Linked DNA regions of Homo sapiens: region 2 is linked to region 1. The links come from fine-mapping of genetic effects on gene expression. A gene starts in region 1. The other region holds a variant in brackets. All regions are shown on one strand. Distances are from middle to middle.

The links. PIP is the estimated chance that this variant, and not a neighbour inherited with it, causes the effect.
Region 2: its variant is fine-mapped to the expression of SCGB1D2 in nucleus accumbens (GTEx, PIP 0.98).

The regions. Positions count from the first base shown.
Region 1 is chr11:62,238,022-62,246,415 of GRCh38, reverse strand. It overlaps SCGB1D2 (secretoglobin family 1D member 2), which reads right to left and starts at 4,177. Exons shown (of 3, transcript NM_006551.4): 1 at 4,054-4,177; 2 at 2,940-3,127; 3 at 1,604-1,746. The coding sequence starts at 4,108. The coding sequence ends at 1,717.
Region 2 is chr11:61,864,224-61,872,470 of GRCh38, reverse strand. It overlaps FADS2 (fatty acid desaturase 2), which reads right to left. Exons shown (of 12, transcript NM_004265.4): 11 at 7,194-7,319; 12 at 5,117-6,833. The coding sequence ends at 6,782. Among named protein-coding and RNA genes, the nearest start is that of MIR6746, 9.9 kb to the left of the region's middle. The variant C/T (reference allele first, on the strand shown) is at 3,279.

The sequences.
Region 1 (8,394 bases):
AGGAACTCGTAAAGGTGATTCTGGGGCAATGGAGGGAATAGAACATAGTGCACTGTTAGGAGTCAGGAGGGAGGGGAGCTGTCATTGGCTGCCTCATGTCCACCCTGAAAGATACCCACATCCTAGTTCCTGAAATCTGTGAATGTTCCATTATATGACAAAAAAAGCACTTGGCAGACACGATCAAACATAATGAGATGGGGTGTTATTCTGAATAATCTGCAGGGTCCCAAAACCAAACCTGTGTATTTTGTGATTAAAAGTCAGGGTGGTGGCTCACGTCTGTAATCCCAGCACTTTGGGAGGCCGAGGTGGGTGGATCACGAGGTCAGGAGATCAAGACCATCCTGGCTAACACGGTGAAACCCCATCTCTACTAAAAATACAAAAAATTAGCCGAGCATGGTGGCGGGCGCCTGTAGTCCCAGCTACTCGGGAGGCTGAGGCAGGAGAACAGCGTGAACCCGGGAGGTGGAGCTTGCAGTGAGCCGAAATGGTGCCACTGCACTCCAGCCTGGGCGACAGAGCGAGACTCCTTCTCAAAAAAAAAAAAAAAAAAAAGCCAAGGTGGGTGGGGTTGATGTAGAAAGAAAAGAAGGGAACATATCATGGAGGCAGAGGTTGGAGTGATGTGGCCACAGGACCAGGACAATTATTAGCCCAGAAGCCAGAAGCAACCCTTAGTGAATTCCCCCCAAGAGTCCCCAGAGGGAGCGGAGCCCTGCTGCCCCCTAACGTCTTCACAGTGATACTAATGTTGGACTTCTGACCCCCAGAGATGCCTGAGAATCAGTCGTTTTAAGCCATGAAGTTTGCAGATTTTTGTTCCAGTAGTCACAGGACACCAAGCAGGGAAACTGTGGTGTCTCTCTGTGTCCTGGTCAGGGTGCTTGCTGGGTGGGTGCCTTAGCCTGGATGGGCTCATGGAAGGGAGAGCAGGCTGGGGGCAGACCCTGTGCTCAGTTTTACATCCTGCTCCTGAAATGACTGTGGAGTGCGCACTGGGAGCTGTCCAGTTGTCAGGGGGTGCTGGTCTCTGGAGCTCTTGGGAGAGCTTGAGGAAGGAAGCATTCACCTCAGGTGCTGGTGAGTGATGCAGACGCTGAGGAGTGCTCTGAGCGTGGGGAGTAAAACAATGTGAACTCCAGGTTGAAACCTAAAGAGGACCCCAAATTGTGATAAGTGGAAAATGAAGTATACTGGACATGACGGAGGACAGAAAGCATAGTGCAGAGAGAGCACCAAGCAGGCTGACTGTGGGTCTGAGGGGACATCAGAGTAAAGTCACTGATAGGTGGGAACCCTCGGCCTGGATACCCATTCAGGCTGGGGGTTCTCTCAGTGTAAGACCAGTGGAACATTTCAATTCCTGTGTCCTTGTTACCATGGTTTTTATTCACGGCTGCAAGATGGGAAATCTGTAAGGAATGCAGGATAATTCCTACCAAATATTCTCCTCTGTGACACCTGGACTCAGGCCCCATTAGTAACAGGATGCTGGTTCTCTGGAGTTAATTATCACCCACAGCAAAAGGCCACTCCACTATGGAAACCACCCTGTACTCAAGGCTCGAGACTGCAGGATTATAACAAGACCAGTGGAGACGTGGAGAGCAAGTGATTTATTAAAGCAAGACGTTGAAACCTTTACATTCTGCAGTGAAGATCAGGGTGTCATTGAAAGACAGTGGAAACCAGGATGAAAGTTTTTACATGTCACACACTACATTTCTTCAATATTTTCACCTAAAATAGGAAAAGAAAAAAGAAGGTGGGGTCAGTCATGCTGCTGCTGGAGGTGACAGGCTCACATCCAAGAGGCCAGTGGGATTCTGCCCCCAAAGGCAATTGGAAGGGCAGAGGCAACAACTCAGTTTGGGAAACTGAGGCCTAGACCTGGTGGCCTCACAGCACCCATGCCGGTGATGGAGCAGCCTTTTCTTGCCAGGCCAATAGCCCTGGGGTGATCCGGGAATGAGGCCCAGGATCCTCATGGAAGCAAGTGACGAGGGTTGGAGAGAGCAGCAAGAGGTTATTGCCTGGGCTGTCCCAGGGCTTGGAGTCTCCTGGTTCCTGCAGTGAGGGACCCAGGACTGAGAGGCTGGTCAGGGCTGAGAGGGCTTCTGGGAAGCTTGGCTTCCAGGAGACTCCAGCCTCCCCATGTGGGAATTCTGCCTCAGGGCCCGAGCACCTCTCAGTCCCGAGCCTGCAGCTTCCATGAGCATTTGCAGCTAAACCTCAGGACAGCAACTCAGAGGCAGCCAGGCAGAGAGGCCCCTGGAAAACCTCTGATTTCTTGAGAAAGACAGAGTGAGAACATCCCGCTTCCATGGCACTGCAGGAGGTAGACTAGCTAGGGTCTTGGACGACTGGCCATGGTCAGGAGAGTGTCGTGGGTGTGGAGGGGAGTATGGGGTCTCAGGAGCTGGGAGGGGCTCCTTCCTGGCTCTGCAGAAGCTGCAGAGAAGTCCAGCCTGCCAGTGCTACATCTGCAGGAGCCCCTGCTCTATGTCCCTCCCTGCCTTCCTCTCCCTGTTCAAGGCTCCCATGCTCCCCAGGACATTCCACAGTGACTGTGTCCATTACATGAGGGCAGTTTGGTCTCAGGAAAGCTCCCAGCAGCGAGGCGGCCATGCTTGGCCCTTTACCATTTCTGCCTGGGCCCAGGCTCACTCCCCATGTCCTCAGCACACTCTGGGGACATGGCATCCAGGCAGGTGACATGAGAAGGAGGAACATGCAGGAGGCTGTGTGCAGCTGAGTTGAATTCTGCAGGTGAAATGGTGGCACCCACCCTGTGGCCCCAGGTGACCTTCTCAAGAGGTGACCAGCAAGGCAGCTGCCCCACCACCTGTGTCCCCAACAGAGCAGCAAGCTGACCTCACTTCATACTGTGCAGCTGACCAGAAGCCTTAACAAATAAAGGAGAAAGAAGTTACCAGGACTTCCGCAATGAGGCTTCGTTTCTGAAGGGACATCTGATCCGTGCATCTCTTCACTCCTAACTTGGCTGCAACAGCTTCCGGAGGGGCATCAAATTTGGCAAGACTTAACTTGAACAGAGGTTCACTAATGAAGAAGAAGTCTAACAGCTCAGAAACAAGAGCTGGGCAGAACTCGGCATTGGCTGCAGCAAAAGAATAAAAATATAGTTGATGTTAGGAAAGTCGATTTTTCTCTTTGGCTCCCTGACGTTAGACCAGACAGGATCCCCTGGGTTATATGTTCACATACATTTGTTGTGCTGATGACAATGCCAGACCCTTCAGGTGTGACTTCCTCAAGCTCTCACAATAAAGGAAAGCACTTCATATCAACAGCCAAACTCTTTTTTTTCCCTTTGTCACCCAGGCTGGAATTCAGTAGCTCAATCATGGCTCACTGCAGCCTCTACCTCCTGGGCTCAAGCGATATCCCCATCTCAGCCCCCTAAGTAGCTGAGACTACTGGTGCATGTCACCACGTCCAGCTGATTTTTCATATTTCTTTTGGTAAAGCTGGAGTTTCGCCACGTTGCCTAGGCCGGACTCAAACTCCTGAGCTCAAGCAATTCACTCTCCTTGACCTTCCAAAGTGCTAGGATTACAGGCATGAGCCGCCATGCTTAGCCCACAGCTAGACTCTTTTGACAGTATTAATCTTTCTTACTCCATTCTCATAGCCTCTCCTGGCAGAAGCGCTAACTACCAGTGATAGGAGGAGGCTCAGGGAGGGTGAGCATTGTGCCCAAGGTCAAAGGGCTGGGAAGTGGCGGATCCCAGATTCACCCCAGACCTCACATTACATCATCTGACACAGATCCCACCCAGGAGTGAAGCTCAGGCAGAAGAATTCCTAATATTTGCCTGCACTGATTTTCAATAAAACTTCGTAGGTGCTGGGGAGTAGAAGAAATAGCTCTGAACTTGATGAGGGGCTTGTTCAACAAGCACAGAAAAAGGTTTGGAATTTTGGTTTTGTGCAGATCCTAACCCCAGCCTGAATAGGTGACCTCGTGCTTGGAAGAGGGTGCTTCCCAGGGGCTGGAGCTAGACTCATGACTGATGTACTCACCCTGGTAGCAGCAGAGGGCCAGCGTGACCAGCAGGAGACACACCGACAGCTTCATGGTGGCTTGTTTTGCTGTGAGCTCAGCTTTCACAAACAATGAGTGATTTGGACTCCACCCCAGGAGCCTGTGGAGCTGCAGAGCCCAGGGCTATTTGTACCTAGGGAGTCTAGCTGGTACTGGTCATGAGGCCTGGCTCCCAGCCCACCTCTCCTTCCCAGGGCTGTTGCCATCCATCTGTGTCACCTCCCCACGCCTCCCTGCACTCTGACTGGGGCAGAGCACAGGAGGGTAGCCCTGCAGGAACTCTGCTCTGTGTTCCAGGTGAATGTTCAGGCACCTCTGGAAATATTCCTGGGATTCTGTTTCCTTCTGAGTTTTGCTGATTATTTTTTTTCTTTGTATCAGTTCAAGGGCACAGGTAAATTCTGACTTTGGAAGGCACAGGAAGCTGGAAGGCTGTGTTCTGGTTATGGGGGAGCAGGGACATAAGGAAACCCTGCTTTGATCCCCCTGCATGTCTGACAACCAGTAGGCTTGTTTCAGTTGCACATTGAGCAAGTCTAAACAAGACCTATTCCCCTCAGCCCCTCCCATCACCACCATGTTCACTGCATAGGTACCTAAAACCTAGTTCAATGCATCTTACCTTTGGAGGATTTCCTGGGGAAAAGCAACTGCTGCACCTGTTCTCTAGCCTGTCTCACTCCCAAACCTGAGTCTTGTTTATGAGTGCAGCTATAAATATGGCCAAGACTCACATTTTCTCTCTACGAGGAGCAAGCTTTCTGTGATGTGTAGCCACCCACATGTTGATGGGTTGACCTGATGATTACATAGCCTAACTTTTTCCAAGTAGCTTTTGGAGTGTCCAGAGCCAATCATGCATCGGACAGGTACTGAGAGTTCTTTGCTCTGGGGCTCCAGGAGGGGAAGAAGATGGAAAAGAAGAGACAGATGATCAGGGTGAGTGGTCACTTCCCCCCAACCTCTAGGCTCAAGTTTTCCACTTCAAATCTAGCTGTGCAGCCTGAGCCAATCCCATTTTTAATAGAAAGGGAAGGAAGCACCCAGACAAAGCAATACACACCCTCCTGCCCTCCTGCTGTGATGCCTTTGTGTGGTGTGAGCAGGAAATCAATCACTAGAAATTTCTCTCTCTTTTTTGTTATTATACTTTAAGTTTTAGGGTACGTGTGCACAACGTGCAGGTTAGCTACATATGTATACATGTGCCATGTTGGTGTGCTGCACCAATTAACTCATCATTTAACATTAGGTATATCTCCTAATGCTATCCCTCCCCCCTCCCCCCACCCCACAACAGTCCCTGGTGTGTGCTGTTCCCCTTCCTGTGTCCATGTGTTCTCATTGTTCAATTCCCACCTATGAGTGAGAACACGCGGTGTTTGTTTTTTTGTCCTTGCGATAGTTTGCTGAGAATGATGGTTTCCAGCTTCATCCATGTCCCTACAAAGGACATGAACTCATCATTTTTTATGGCTGCATAGTATTCCGTGGTGTATATGTGCCACATTTTTTTAATCCAGTCTATCATTGTTGGACATTTGGGTTGGTTCCAAGACTTTGCTATTGTGAATAGTGCTGCAATAAACATACGTGTGCATGCGTCTTTATAGCAGCATGATTTATAATCCTTTGGGTATATACCCAGTAATGGGATCGCTGGGTCAAATGGTATTTCTAGTTCAAGGTCCCTGAGGAATCGCCACACTGACTTCCACAATGGTTGAACTAGTTTACATAATCATGTGATTTTTTCATTGGTTCTGTTTATATGCTGGATTACATTTATTGATTTACGTATGTTGAACCAACCTTGCATCCCAGGGATGAAGCCCAATTGATCATGGTGGATAAGTTTAATGCCCACAAGAGAAAGCAGGAAAAATCTAAAATTGACACCCTAACATCACAATTAAAAGAACTAGAGAAGCAAGAGCAAACATATTCAAAAGCTAGCAGAAGGCATTGAATAACTAAGATCAGAGCAGAACTGAAGGAGATAGAGACACAAAAAACCCTTCAAAAAATCAACGAATCCAGGAGCTGGTTTTTTGAAAAGAGCAACAAAATTGATAGACCACTAGCAAGACTAATAAAGAAAAAAAGAGAGAAGAATCAAATAGATACAATAAAAAATGATAAAGGGGATATCACCACCGATCCCATAGAAATACAAACTACCGTCAGAGAATACTATAAACACCTCTATGCAAATAAACTAGAAAATCTAGAAGAAATGGATAAATTCCTCGACACATACACCCTCCCAAGACTAAACCAGGAAGAAGTTGAATCTCTGAATAGACCAATAACAGGCTCTGAAATTGAGGCAATAATTAATAGCCTACCAACCAAAAAAAGTCCAGGACCAGATGGATTCACAGCCGAATTCTACCAGAGGTCCAAGGAGGAGCTGGTACCATTCCTTCTGAAACTATTCTAATCAATAGAAAAAGAGGGAATCCTCCCTAACTCAATTTATGAGGCCAGCACCATCCTGATACCAAAGACTGGCAGAGACACAACAAAAAAAGAGAATTATAGACCAATATCCCTGATGAACATCGATGCAAAAATCCCCAATAAAATACTGGCAAACCGAATCCAGCAACACATCAAGAAATTTCTCTCTTAAATGAACTTACTTTTGAGAGGATTCACAGCCTAGGCCCGAGCTTTCCATTCGCAGCTGCGCAATCGAATCACTTGGAGCTTTTAAAATATACTGACTCCCCAGGTTTCTCTCTCTGGGGATTTTGATTCAGTAGCGTTGGGTTGACTCCCTGATTCCTACACTGTTTAAACTGCTCTGGTGTTTCTGATGGGCAGGAGGGCTGAAAACCACACAGAAAGACATGTATGTAAAGAGGGGACCTTATGGGCTGTGTCATCAGAGACAACTTGGCAGGTTTGTTTGAGCCCCAGCTGAGGGCAACAGTGGCTGTCACTTCCATCACACAGGATCATGAGGAAATCCCTGAGCCAGCTCTTCCGCCACCACCAAGGAGTGGGAGGGCCAGTGGTGAGGCTCACAGATACAAGGCTCACAGATACAGCCTCATTTGTGGGCTCTTGGACCTTAAGAAAATTATTCAGCTTATGTAACCTCAGTTTTCCTATTTGTCAAAGTAGGCTAGTAATTGTGCCTACATCATTGGGTTCATAGATGATCAAATGAGTGTGTTCATGGGGGTGTGTGTGTTTAAAGTTAACTAAGTTCTGGTACATAGTAGTTCTCAATAAATTCTAACTCCCATTATCTTGTCCCACTTGTCATATATGTCATGGTTTGCCAGTAGTTCCTAGTTTAGAGCACAGCCAAAATCCACTAAATCACCTACTTTCAGAACTACATGGACACCTAGATACACCATTTCTCTCTGACATAAATGGAAAAAGAAATCCAGTTCATGATCTCTGAGTCTACAGACCCATGGACTTGGGCTTCAGGACTGAGACGTCTTTCACAGCAGACAGGTCTGTGAGGCATTCATCCTAACTGTGGACCAGAGCTTGTCCTGGCACAGGCTTGGCATTCACCTTGTCAGCTCTATGGTCCACCGGGGAGGATGTGTATCTCTGAGAGAGGACTGTTTGCTTGTACTTTTATCATTCCTATTGCCCTTAACACCTGCACAGGGTTTTTTAGTTTTCATCATTGATATTTTTAATGGGTCCCTCCTCCTTACCGAGTTCATGCAATATTTCAGTTCATTCTTTCCACCCACGGGCATTGTTGCCTGACCCCGATGCTTTGGTCAGTGTTGCCCTTTACAGACACTGCTGGAACCATGCACCTCTCATTTGCAGCAATTCCAAGGCTGTTATTTTACAAATGTGTAATCAGTTCATGGATACAAGTTTTCCTGGACTGTTAGCTCCATAATCACAGGGCCAGTATCTGCTTTTGCTCATCTTGGCTCAGCACAGCGGCTGGCATGGAGAAGAAGATCAGCAAACAATCTTTTAACAAATACATCATAAAATTATGAATCAACAAACTGCTAAATGGGTGACATTCATGTTCAGTGTAAAAGAATGCTCATGGTGCCAGGCTTCCCTGTGGGCAGTTGAGGGTGAAAGATGAGTAGTGTGGTGGTGACTGTGAAAGAAACTCATCGGTTTTCCACATCCCTAGAGAGAACAGTGAAACGAGGATTTTGCCGCATCAACCACTCCAACTCCTAATCTTCTAGTGGAAGCCAAGACTTCTAAAACAATTTCAGGGAAATTTAATATCAACTCACCAAGCTCTATATTGACTAATAGGAGCTCCTGTTTAGTTTCTCTTCTAATTAGGAGGTTCAGAGCTTCTGAGT
Region 2 (8,247 bases), 370 kb after region 1:
AGGTGGCGCTGAGTGTTGCTGCCCATGAACTTCTCTTCCGAGACAGCCAGAAAGCTCCTCAGTGCTAAAGCTGATCACCGTAGTCTCACACCTGCTTCCTCTCTGTGAGGAGGGGCCGTCTGCACATTCCCATGGACTCTTGCGGCTCTTCCCAGGGGCTCCCCTTCTAGAAAGTTCTCTCTGACCCGCAGGGCTCCTCCCCTTCCCTGCCCAGCCTGTGACTAGGGTCTCTGTGACGGCACCTGGAATACTGACATCATTTGCTGCTGGAGGCTGGTGGCAGCCCAGAGCCTGGCCCGGGAGACCCTGGGGTGTGTTTTCTGAGAGGATGACAGACAGGGTGTTTGGGTCCTGCTTCCCTCACCCTGACTTCTGGGGCAGGAGAGCACTGGGGGAGGTCCTGTTCGGCTCACATAATCTCCCAGACCCAGGAGCAGACAGCCCAAAGCTCCCTATGGCCTCCCGGCCCAGGGCAGTGCCAGCAGAGGCCTCCTGGTAGGGCCAGGGAAGCAGAGGGTGGCAGCCCCTTCAGCTTGGTTGTGAGTGAGATGCCTGCCCTCCTCCGGGTGCCACCCAGCCCCACCGGATCCACTCAAGTCAGACAGACTTGGGGGTGGGGTGGGGTGGGGGCAAGTCCTGTTTCTGCCAGGACGCAGGCTGTGTGACCTTGGGGGAGTTCCTTGACCCCGAGCAGCAGTACCTAGGGTGATGGAAGAAAGGCTCTTAGCAAAGGGCACAGCAGCAGGCTCAGTTTATTCACAAATTTTGTGCACACAACCCAATTCCCCAGGATGACCATTTGCTCTGTCACCTAGGGCAAGTTCTTTTTTGCCTTCCCTGAGCCTCAGTTTTCAGCCGAGGGTAAGATTGGATGCTCCTTGAAAGGTACTTCCTGCCTCAGACACACGCTTCTCATGGCCAGGGCGTGCCTTGCATTCAGGGTCTCTGCACAGGCTGGTCCCTCTGCAGGGACTCCCCCTTCCTGTCACCGCCTGTTTAAATCCTGTTGGCTCCTAGTGCCACGCGGGCGCCCTGAGCCAGCGCAGGCTCCGAATGGCATTCCCTCCGTCCACACCCTGGTAGAGATCGCTGTGCGCTGGCTCCGAGGCGCTCGCCAGGGAGATGCTAACACCGAGGATCCACGACAGCTGAGCCTGCAGCGCCACCCAGGGGCGCCCGGAGCATCTGCGCCAGTGTGGGGCGGGCCGTGCTCCCTACTGTCCCTGGTAACTTGCTTTGCGGACCCCTGGGAGGCCCCGCCTTCAGCAGCCACTCCTAGATTTCTCCAGACCACCTGGGACCCATCACTGGCAGGGGAATCTTTGCTCTTGTCCCACTGTCCCCCATGCTAGATCCCCTGGGAACAGGTCACCCTCAGTCCTGAGCTGAGCTCCCCCTTCTCCATCTGTAGGTCTCCTAGTCTCAGAACAAAGGCTTAGGGCACAGGGGCCAGGTTTGTAAAAGGAAAGAGGCTTTGGTGGAACCTCTGAACCTCTGAGAAACCGTGTTCCTTTTTTATTGTCTGTACAAGAGGCGTGGGCCCGGAGGAAAAACAGCTCCCGAGGGAAACCATAACCGCAGTGTTGGTTTGTTCCTTTGATCATCAACATTTGCTACGGGTCTCCCAGCCCAGGCAGATGTTGGAAATGATGATGCCCAAGAGCCAGCCCCTGCCTGGTGTGTTGGGAGTAGCTGGAGGGGAGCAGGGCGTCAACAAACTCTTTTGTGACGGGACAGGCCATGGGTTTCTCAAGGTTCCTCCCCCCACCACACTATGTCCTCAGGCAATGAGCCACCACAACTACTGGGAGCTTGGCCTATTCCAAGCTCTTGGCTGCTGTCACTCTTTCTCTTGGACACTTGCTCTTGAATGGGACGATTTAGAAGAAAGACCTGAACGCCTTTAAAATCCAAAGCAAAGTGTTTGTGATGGTGGAGGACGATGGGGACGTGATCCTGAAATCTCAGCACGCTGGGGGGCTGCTTGTTCCGTGTATGCACTGGCCACATGAAGCCAGTCTGCTGAGAAAAGGAAAACCAGTCCCGAGGGCAGTGGCGTTTCAGCCTGGGGCAAGCCATCCCCACGGCGCCCCATTTCCCTCTCAGATGTTGGAACAGGGACTCTTTGAGAGGCAGCTTCTTTGGCCAGAGGGGCACACCTCTCGGGGGAGGGTGCAGCCTGGCTCGCTGAGGAGTCCCGATGGGCCCAAGGCACTGTGTCACATAAGCAATGGCCAGCCACTCCTGATGGCAGCCCAAGCCCAGCCCCAGTGGCTGCCAGCTCTGCCCTGGTCCAGCTTGGTAAAGGCTTCCTCTCCCCTCCGAGTAGGCACGAGGGCTTCGGAGTGTCCAGCCAGACACCCCGAGGATCCGCCTGTGGTGCCACAGCACCCTCCCCCGCCCCACACACACACAGCTTAGACTTGGGGCGCTGCAGATGTCCCCGCTACCCACAAAGCTGATACCCTTTTATCTGCGTAGCTACACTGCCCTTATCTCCTCCTCAGAGACTAACTGCCCTCCACTGCCCCCACTCCTCCAGCCAGCCGCTGGGCCTCCTGGGAGCTGTCTGACATTTGACGTGATGGGGGCAGGGTCTGGGAACCAGCCCTTTCTGTGCAGGAGAGGTGGCCAGGAGCCTGCGGGTTAGGAGCAGGGTCCTGCTGCTGTGTGGCCTGCGCAGTCCTGTCCTCTCTCTGGGCTCAGCCTCTTCGCCCATGATGGTGGTGTTGGGGTTTGATTGCTCAGGGCCTTGAATATTGGGGCACCATGACTTTGGCAGGGGATAGGGATTAGAAACTCACAATTCTGGGTGTGTTGGCAAGGGGGTCAGCTGAGTACAGGGACAGGAGGGGGCGGTTAAGCAGAGAGCAGATATGAATGTCCTCAGCTTCTTGACCCAGGGAAGTATTCAAGGGCAAGGCGGGGCTGGGTGGGGCTGGGGAAGTCAGAGAAGCTCCAAGTGCCCGGTGAGGCTAGGCCAAGATTTATCTGGTGCCCTCATAGCCCCAGCGTCCATCTGGCCTCCAGTATCCCCAATTCCAAGCCCCCTGGTTGTTATGGGTGATGGACCCATGGATTTCCAACTGGTAGGGTTGGGAGGCCTGGGCTGGTCGCCATCCTGGAGGCGGGTCACAGGCACAGGGCAGAGGGTGGGAGCCGTGCCTGCCAGGGTCTTGTAACCTTGAAGGCCACTGCCAGCGGGTCCACCAGGAGGGCAAGGCCTAGGGTAAGCGGGTGTTGAGATAATGGCATCCTTGGGGCCCCTCTAGCCTGCC[C/T]CTGTGGACTATGGCCCACAGGGCCAGGGAGGGCAAAGGACTCCCCAGAGCCACTTGGTGAATCTGGGGTGAGTCGGCCACCTCGCTCAGGGCTTCTGTAATGCCAGGCCCTACTCAGGACACCCTGTGGCCACTGGGGAGCCATACGTACCCCAGCCAGTCTGCTGGCTGTCCCTACCTGGCTGGATTTCGGCCAGGCAAAGCGGGGGTCAGGGGAAGCAGGCGGGGGCTGAGGTCTACTCAGGAGCCCTCCCCAGCCCTGCTGGGAGCAGCTACAAAGCCAAGGGGAGGCCCCAAGGTGTTAACTAGCCAGTGCCTCTTGGCCCTTCCTTGGCACTTTCCCAGGATCAGCCCTGCCAGGAAAGCCAGCCCAGAGATGATGACGGAGCAGCATGGGGGTCCATGGGAGGCCGACTGTACAAGTGCCCCTGGCATGTTGCTTTAGACTCTTCCCAGCCTCTGGGGTCAGACAGACCTAGGATCCAATCTCTGTGCCTATGAACTGGTGACCCTGGGCTAGGATGATATCAGCCCCCCCCACAGCCTGTGGGTTCTGAATGAGCCATTGCATATATGGGCACGGGAGCCACAAAAAGAATCATCAGCCTCCAGAGCCTTCTTCAGCCCCCTTTTAATTTAATTTAATTTATTTATTTATTTATTTATTTGAGACGGAGTCTCACTCTGTCGCTAGGCTGGAGTGAGCGATCTTGGCTCACTGCAACCTCTGCCTCCCAGGTTCAAGCGATTCTCCCGTCTCAGCCTCCTGAGTAGCTGGGACTGCAGGCACGCACCACCATGCCCAGCTAATTTTTTTTTTTTTTTTTTTTTTGAGACGGAGTCTCGCTGTTGCCCAGGCTGGAGTACAGTGGTGTGATCTCAGCTCTCTGCAGGCTCTGCCCCGCCGGGGTTCACGCCATTCTCTTGCCTCAGCCTCCCACGTAGCTGGGACTACAGGCACCCGCCACCTCGCCCGGCTAATTTTTTGTATTTTTAGTAGAGACGGGGTTTCACCGTGTTAGCCAGGATGGTCTTGATCTCCTGACCTCGTGATCTGCCCGCCTCGGCCTCCCAAAGTGCTGGGATTACAGGCGTGAGCCACCGCACCCGGCCTAATTTTTGTATTTTTAGTAGAGACGGGGTTTCACCGTGTTAGCCAGGATGGTCTTGATCTCCTGACCTCGTGATCTGCCCGCCTCGGCCTCCCAAAGTGCTGGGATTACAGGCGTGAGCCACCGCACCCGGCCTAATTTTTGTATTTTTAGTAGAGACGGGGTTTCACCATGTTGGCCAGGATGGTCTCAATCTCTTGACTTTGTGATCTGCCCGCCTCAGCCTCCCAAAGTGCTGGGATTACAGGCATGAGCCACCGCTCCCGGCCTTCTCCAGCCCCTTCCAAGGAGGCCAGGAATTCTGTTTGGCCTGGCGCTCTGTGGAAGCTGGCTGGCCCAGGGATGGGAGGGCAGATTGCACTTGGGGAGACAGCTGGGGGGGGAGGATGTTAGGAAGAGTCTCTGCAAGCCCCTCCATGCCACCCTCCTTGGGTAGGGGTCAGCTGCTGAGAGGTGGCTCTCAGCCCTGTTTTAGAATTGGGCTGGGGTCGGCTGCTGAGAGGAGGAAGATGGGCCAATGTTTTTGGGTCATTTCCACCAAGTTCCGGGCCCCAGAATGAATTTCAGAGGCAGCAGGGAGAGGCGGGTGGGATGGCCACAGGGGAGGGAGGGGATACAGAGAGATGCAAGCATGGGGACCCCTCCTGGTGCCCAGGCCCAGCTAGAAGGGCCTCATCTATCACCCAATACCATGGCCTGGCATTGGCGTGCAGGAAACACAGGAAGTGAGAATAAAATTCCTTATTTTATTTCAAAAAATGTAGGGGTGGGGAAGTAACATGATAAACATTACGATCAGCTCCCTATGGGTTCATTCTGCCTCTGCGGGGGTCGGGGGCATACAGTAGCTGGGGGGCATGCCATTGCCATGGCAACCCAGATGCTTAGATGCAGGTCCCTCCTGGCTGCTTAGAGCTGGGGGGACTAGGCGCCCTCCCCGAAAGCCCCCATTCTGAGTTGTTGGTGCCTGCCCTTCCCCTGAATCTAAGAACTGATTAGTGGGTTAGACTGCAACAGCAGCTCAGGATCCTCCCAGGACTTCCCTCCCTCCCCTCTCACTTGCCCGTCCCCTCAGCTACCAGCACCTCCAGCCCCCACCTCCTCCTCTTCTCAGCTCCACCCTGGTCCTCATGAGGTACCCCCTCCCCAGCCCCTCAGGGCAGCCTCCTCCTGAGACTCCCTCCCGCTCTGCCTCCCTGGCCCTCCCTGACAGTCAGGGCCACCGAGGCAAGGCCATGTGGTGAAAGGCAGATTGTCACAAGGCCCAGCCCTGCCGCCCCCTCCTATCAGAATGCATCCTGGAGCAACAGGTTAAACACAGTAAGGGCAGGTTCAGACAGGAGAGTGCCTGAGGCAGCGCCGTCCACACAGCAGCCCCGAGATGGGGAGGGCTGGGACGAGACCTCCCAGCTCCAGTGCCCTCCTGCAGCCTGCAGGGCCCACGTCCCCTGGGGCCAAATGGCCAGGGATTGGCTGGCACTGCCCAGCTGATAACAGAGCCTTTGGAGAAGGGTCAGATTGCTCCAGAATCTTGGACCTCAGGACACCCTGAGGAAAAGCTGGAGGGTGGGCTGAGCCTCCAGGCCAGCCGGCCCCTCCCTGAACGTGGCCACTGCCTCTGCTGAGTCACAAGAGACGAGGGACTCCCCCTTTGGTCCCAAGGTCACAGGCTCAAGTTGGGGAGGCGGTGGAATGGGGCCCGTGAAAGCCCAGGGTCAGAGCACTCTAGTGATGGGGTGGAGGACTCTTCCAGGGCCCAAGGTTTGGGCTGGCTGTGCCCGCGGGCCTGGGGCCCTGGACATCTTAAGAGAGGCCTCGGGTACTTAACCGAGCTGCAGGAGGGAGACCCGAGCTTTGTAACAAAGCAGGCCTCTCTATGAAAGGGTGGACCAATGGCAGCCGTCAGGGAGAGTGAAGCCAGGCCGGGAGGGTCAGGGGCCCTGCCCGACTAGGACCTGCCCCTATGAACCCCAAGAGCATCTGAAGAACCAAAGCGGGGGTGATGCCTAGTGACCAGGCTGCAAGGGGAGACTCACAGGCCAGACCCATGGACCGCTGGTCTCCTCCCATCTTTAGGGGCAGAGAGTGGAGGTAGGACAGAGCCACCCCCGGTGGCCACCTCTCTGCTCCTTGGAAGAAGGGGCTAGGAGGCACTGGGAGGGCCATGGCTGATGGCTGACGGCTGAGGGAGGGCAGGTCCCATGAGGGCAGGGTGCTATGGGGGAGATGTGAAGAGAAAAAGGAGAGGAGAAAGGGAGAAAGATCCAACATGGGGTCCGTGAGCAGTGCATACACCAGCCTCTCGGACACCCCTCAGAACAAAAGCCCATCATTCCTCTGGCCATCACCCCACCTGCACCCCTTCCCCACGGTGTCCCGGGGGCTGTGGCTTCATTTGTGAAGGTAGGCGTCCAGCCACAGCTTCCCAGACTTCTTCAGGGACCTGCAAAGTTGGGGATGGACCAGGGTCAGGGACCAGGACGGGAGTGGCCCCAGGGAGTGCAAGGGCTGAGGAGGCCATCATTAAGGTGGCATGTATGTCCCCTTGGCCCTAACCAGGGCTTACCACTGCCACTGGGCCTGTGGGGCTGTCAGCTCAGAGCCCACCAGGAACCCCACACAGAAAGGGATGGTCTTCTCGCAGCCCAGGGAGAAAAGCCCAACAGCTCCTAACACAGGCTCGGGAGTAAGGCAGGTGCCCTGGTGGGTGACTGTGCCAGGAGGGCCCAGCCCCTCTTGTGATCCCACTGTCTGCACCACGGGTGATCCCAGGGCCCAGCGCCTGTGGACCTCCACCCCTCACCTGATGATGTCCAGCAGGGCCCTCAGTAGCGGCTTCTCCTGGTATTCAATGCCATGCTTGGCACATAGAGACTTCACCAGCGGGGCGATCTTGTGTAAGTTGTGCCGGGGCATGGTGGGGAAGAGGCTGAGGAGTGTGTAGGGTGGGCAGAGCGTGAGGACTCAGAGGGCCATGCTGCTCCCGCTTCCTCCCACCACCTGGGCAGAGGCTGGCTGGGGCCCTCAGAGACCCTGTCCACAGCCAGGACCAGTCTCAAAGTGTGGCTCCTCGTGTGTGCCCAGTGGGGTGCCACGTGTGTGGAGGGGAGGGTGCAGCCCTCCGTGAGCAGGAGGGCGTTTGTGCTCTATGGAGCTGGGAAGATATTGGGTGGCCAGAGACAAAGTGTCATGTTTTTCAAAAAAGAAATGAAATAGCTGGGGAATGCTAGGAAAAGAGGCAGTGAGGTGAGGCACGGTGGCTCACGCCTGTAATCCCAGCATTTTGGGAGGCCGAGGCAGGCAGATCACTTGAGGCCAGAAGTTTGAGATCAGCCTGGGCGACACGGCAAGACCTCTTCTCTACAAAAAATAAAAATAAAAAATTAGGCCAGGTGCAGTGGCTCACACCTGTAATCCCAGCACTTTGGGAGGCCAACGCAGGTGGATCACTTGAGGCTAGGAGTTTGAGACCAGCCTGGCCAACATGGTGAAACCCCGTCTCCACTAAAAAATACAAAAATTAGCTGGGCGTGGTGGCACACGCCTGTAATCCCAGCTACGTGGGAGGCTGAGGCCTGAGAATTGCTTGAACCTGGTAGGTGGAGGATGCAGTGAGCCGAGATTGCGCCACTGCCCTCCAGTCTGGGCAACAGAGTGAGATTCTGTCTCAAAATAAATAAATAAATAAAAGTAAAAAAAAAAAGAAAAAATTAGTTGGGCATGGTGGCACGCACCTGCAGTCCCAGCTACTCAGGAGGCTGAGGTGGGAGGATGACTTTAGCTCAGGCGTTCGAGGCTGCAGTGAGCCAAGAAAGCACCACTGCACTCCAGCCCAGGAAACAGGGTGAGACTCTGTC